Linked DNA regions of Homo sapiens: region 1 is linked to region 2. A link means that fine-mapping ties the variant in region 2 to the expression of a gene that starts in the linked region. Tissue or cell type: whole blood. Region 2 holds a variant in brackets; the other region holds the start of a gene. All regions are shown on one strand. Distances are between the middles of the regions.

Evidence for each region. PIP is the estimated chance that this variant, and not a neighbour inherited with it, causes the effect.
Region 1: it holds the start of TLR7, and the variant in region 2 is fine-mapped to the expression of TLR7 in whole blood (TOPMed, PIP above 0.99). The same link has a PIP of 0.9 or more in blood mononuclear cells.

What each region holds. Positions count from the first base shown.
Region 1 is chrX:12,865,932-12,868,619 of GRCh38, forward strand. It overlaps TLR7 (toll like receptor 7), which reads left to right and starts at 1,141. Exons shown (of 3, transcript NM_016562.4): 1 at 1,141-1,192; 2 at 1,550-1,650. The coding sequence starts at 1,648. RefSeq lists enhancers at 1,979-2,048, 2,069-2,188.
Region 2 is chrX:12,889,528-12,892,215 of GRCh38, forward strand. It overlaps TLR7 (toll like receptor 7), which reads left to right. Exons shown (of 3, transcript NM_016562.4): 3 at 1-834. Among named protein-coding and RNA genes, the nearest start is that of TLR8, 16 kb to the right of the region's middle. The variant G/A (reference allele first, on the strand shown) is at 1,136.

The sequences.
Region 1 (2,688 bases), 24 kb before region 2:
AGATCTCACTGATTTGAATGGGACCTCTTCTTCTATTACCAATTTGGATCAGTAATTATTTATGTATGAGAAAACTATTGATTTTTACATATCGTTGCATAGCAGAGTGGTTTAATAAGGAGACATTTGGTTTTTACTGCCTGTGTGGGTATCACTTGCTATGTGACTTGAGGCAAATCCAATATTTCTTCTGTTATAAATTCCAGTATTTGTAAAAAATGGGTAATAAGATCTCTATTTTATATAGTTTTAGTATTTAATGAGATAATACATATAAAGTCATTAAAACAGTGTCTGGCTCATAAAAAACCCTCAATAAATGTCACTTATTACTGTATCTGGTTTTTGAGCTGCTCTATTGCACCATTGAGTTTTCAGCCCAGTATATGTTAACCCTGATCATTATCTGCAGAAGTCCCCGTGCCACACTCTACATCATCCAAATTCTCTCCAGGTGGACTAAGTAGATTAAAGAACTTTAAACATAACTACCATATTTTGGCTCTATCTACAAAATGTCCAATAATCAGTTAAGAAAGGAACAATTCTCTTGGGGCCCACACTTTGAGAAGCAAATGCAGCTGAACTTTTTTAGAGGAAAGTGAGTGAACCAACTGGTAGCTTTGCCACTGCTTAAAAACCAGCATCCTTTCCAGCTGGGTCTAAGACAGAATAAGGTAAATTTAGATATGTCTCTAATATATCTATAGAACAGTGGTTCTCAACCCGGGGTGTTTTTGCCCCTTAGGGGATAATTTGCAATGTCTGGAGACATCTGTGATTGTCATAACTGGAAGGGGGCAGTGCTATTGGCATCTAGTGGGTATAGAGCAAGGGTGCTACCAAATATCCTATGGTGCAACAGAGAATTATCTGGTCAAAAATGTAAATAGTGCTGAGGGTGAGAAACCCTGCTATAAAAACGAAAGAAATTTGGTCTACAGAGTTGTTTGGATTTAGACAAGACGTTGCCCCAATAGTGGTGATAGAAATAAGAGGAACCCCGTGCTTTTGCAAAGCCCATATCTGGGGTGGCTTAAATAATCATGCTCCTCCCCATCCCCCGACCTGATCTTTGTAGTTGGAAACTCCAGGGCTGGCTGCCTGTAGTCTTTGTGACTACACTTCCTGCCTCCCATCACTTCATCTCAGAAGACTCCAGATATAGGATCACTCCATGCCATCAAGAAAGGTATTTTAAACATTGGAACACATATAGATAATTTAAGTAGGTAGATGTATGTGCTGTTATAAGGAAGTGGGGAGGAGAGAAGAGGGAACCGAAATCATATGCACAAAAATTTTTTTTAGAATATAAATAAAAAATGTGGTAGTCTAAAATGTCAATTCTTCAAAGATAAAGTTAGGCTTTCAGTAACGTTAGAAATGGTTTTCTGGAATATGTCTCCAGTCTACCTAACTTTGAGGAAGTAAATACTGTAAATAGATGTTTCAAACGCATTTTAAAGCAATGATCCTAGCATGTCTTTAAGCTACAGTATTGTGCTGTCTTTGAAATGTAAACTTTGATGTCTTCTCTTTCTCTTAGTTGATGCTATTGGGCCCATCTCAAGCTGATCTTGGCACCTCTCATGCTCTGCTCTCTTCAACCAGACCTCTACATTCCATTTTGGAAGAAGACTAAAAATGGTAAGAACAGCTCAGAGAACCTTAAAAAGTGTTATCTGTAATCTTTGTGGAAACAACTGAAACCAGCTGGCAAGAGCAATATTGAAGAATCTGTACTTAGGTTATTTGCTGGGGGAAAGTGCTTCCTGATATTTCACAATTGGCATTAATGAAGGGGGCATGTCACAATTTCAGATTAATCAACGCTTGCTCTGTTCAACTTCCTACAAGAATTAAATATGTGCTGTGGGGAGGAGGAGCAGATGTTTGAATTGGGGACATAGCTTCTATGTATCTCATTTCTTCAGCCTACAATTTTGGCTTTAAAGCCATAACAAATCACTGAATTACTGAAGTTACTTTGTGCTTTTTCCAGCATATGGTGTTGTCTTAATGACTGTGTGGATGAAAGTGTGTGGGCAGGCTCATAGCAATAAAATACGGGAAATCCCCGGGCTTGAGTGCTGTCAAAGAAAACTAAATTTGGACAGTAGATAAAGATACTATCAGGACTATTGCAATCGGCAGAAAGAGACCTCAGTATAGAAAGGGGCTCAATTCCAAATACAGCCAAAGACCAGTAAAGATTTCTGGCCAAGGAGTAGAGTGGGGGTCAGTGGATGGAAAATTACTAAGAGGAAACATCAAGGGTAAAAGGATTCTGGCTAAACCGACCTGACAGGATTCTTGCTGAAGACAGGCCAGGGTGATCAGACCTCACCTGTGGATGGTGGGAGATGAGGAATTTGATCAGATATTGAGGGTGATCACATACCAAGAGGAGTGGATTATCAATAAAATGACTTAGCAGGATTCCTGCTTGAACTGGGCAATGCAAAGATGGACATGAAGCCAAAGGCCGAAGCCTAGGGGTGTAGTAGAGCCTGATTAAGTTGAATTAAGGAGAGTCTTTGTCAGCGCTGGCTCTCCCAGTCACTAGTTGGGGGGGCCTTGTGCCTGTCATCAAAGTCCTCTGAAACTCAATTTCTCTGACTATGAAATAGGCATTAGAATCCCTCCCCTGTTGCCTTCCAGGGCCACTGTGAGGCTCAAATAATA
Region 2 (2,688 bases):
CTGCTCTTTTTCCTTGGGCCTGCTTCTGGGTTCCATAGGGAAACAGTAAGAAAGAAAGACACATCCTTACCATAAATGCATATGGTCCACCTACAAATAGAAAAATATTTAAATGATCTGCCTTTATACAAAGTGATATTCTCTACCTTTGATAATTTACCTGCTTAAATGTTTTTATCTGCACTGCAAAGTACTGTATCCAAAGTAAAATTTCCTCATCCAATATCTTTCAAACTGTTTTGTTAACTAATGCCATATATTTGTAAGTATCTGCACACTTGATACAGCAACGTTAGATGGTTTTGATGGTAAACCCTAAAGGAGGACTCCAAGAGTGTGTATTTATTTATAGTTTTATCAGAGATGACAATTATTTGAATGCCAATTATATGGATTCCTTTCATTTTTTGCTGGAGGATGGGAGAAGAAACCAAAGTTTATAGACCTTCACATTGAGAAAGCTTCAGTTTTGAACTTCAGCTATCAGATTCAAAAACAACAGAAAGAACCAAGACATTCTTAAGATGCCTGTACTTTCAGCTGGGTATAAATTCATGAGTTCAAAGATTGAAACCTGACCAATTTGCTTTATTTCATGGAAGAAGTGATCTACAAAGGTGTTTGTGCCATTTGGAAAACAGCGTGCATGTGTTCAAGCCTTAGATTGGCGATGTCGTATTTTCCTCACGTGTGGCAATGCCAAAGGCTTTACTTTACCTGTGAGTACACACTATATGAATTATTTCCAACGTACATTTAATCAATAAGGGTCACAAATTCCCAAATCAATCTCTGGAATAAATAGAGAGGTAATTAAATTGCTGGAGCCAACTATTTCACAACTTCTGTAAGCTTTATTGTGTTTCATAGTTTCCGTTCTTCTTCTGTGAGAACAAGGATAATGGCATTAAAAAATCAGCTTTTGGTCATTATAAATTGTCTTCTATTAAAACACATATACACATAAAATCACTTGAAGACAATTTAAACATCTTCTGAAATGGATCAAGAGGAAGGGAAACTGAAAATAATGCAACTCAGAAACCACAGAGTATTTTGACATGAGGTTAAGCACCGTGGTTTGTTGTAGGAAAATAACAGCACACCAACAGATGGTTTTTATCTGAATTCTTTG[G/A]TAATCTTGACATGTCATTCTTCTAACTTTCTGAGGGCCCTCAGTGCAGTTTTGTAGGACTGGAGCTGTTCACAGACGGTCCCCACAAAGCTCTGAACGTGGGGCTTCTCTGCTGACTGGCCTCTGGTTGGCTCCACCCCGGAAGGAACTCCCAGATTCTCCATGAATTCCGCTTCCACCATCAAGCCTTGGTCCAAGCCCCTTTCAACCTTGACTTGGCCAGGAAGTGTCCTTTCTCTTCAGATAGATACTACACCTTAGCAAGACTTGGCATTTTTAGAATCCAAGCCAAGGGAGGCACTTGGCAAGGCAAATGTTATGGATGAGAAAAAGGCAAAACAAGTGTCTGCAGTTTGTAGAGGAGAGAGAGGATGAGTCTGATTGTAGCCCTGACCCTGAGTCAGGATCTCTCGGCCCCATTTGCAGGTCTACTTCCAGCTCCATCTGTCTGGACACTCTTTTAGGTCCAGATCATCTCTTACATGTGGCCAAGGAATATAGAGTATGCAAGGGGATGTAGCGACCTGAGAGTGTGAGTAACTTGTGCCCATCTCCAAGGAAGCTGTGATGGGGATAGCAAGGACACACACTCTTCTTATTTATAATGCCTTTCCCCCTCCCATGAGATATGCTTTTTATTTACTTCCTCCTTCTCATCCTAAGTCGGGTGAACAAGAGGACCAGGTTGCACATCCTACTACTTATTTATGGCCCAATTTTAACATGGGGGTGGAGTTGAGGTTGGAATTGTTCCTCCGCCTCTGCTGCACATGCTCAGTAAGCAAGAACACTGTTGATGGGAAAGGCTTAGTCACAGACAGTGGGAGCACATCCCTCCTTGGAGCTTTGGGTCGCTGTGCTCCAGAAACAGTTAGTTATAGCACACCCTGCTCCTGGCATCTACTGGAAGGTGAAGCCCTTGACCCTAAGAAACATTGGGAATGATTTGTACCCTCCAAAGTCCAATAGCTATGTCGGAGGGAAACGATCAAAGAACATGATTGAGGAGACTCAAACAGAGATGTGCTTCAGACAACACCAAGACAGAAAATTAATCCATTTTACCAAGTTAACAATGTACTGAAGGCGAACAAGAGACCAACCCACCTGCCAACCAACGCTATGAAGAAGGAGGGTTGATCAGTCTGGCTAACATGGTGAAACCCCATCTCTACTAAATATACAAAATTAGCTGGGCGTGGTGGCACACTCCTGTAATCCCAGCTACTCGGGAGGCTGAGGCAGGAGAATCGCTTGAACCTGGGAGGCAGAGGTTGCAGTGAGCTAGGATCAAGCCACTGCACTCCAGCCTGGGTGAGAGAGTGAGACTTGGTCTCCAAAAAAAAAAAAAAAAGAAGGAGGGTTAAAAAGAGAATAAGTCCCAAACTCATAAGATGGTGTGGAAAGGGCCCTGGTGACATAGGGGCCACCCATGCCAGTGAGAATGAAATCACAACAGGGCAGTTTCACACTGTTTCAGGTTTTTATTTTTTCTTCTTCTTCTTTCCCTCCTTTCTTCTTTTGCCTCCCCCTCCCTCTCGGTTTCCTTTTTG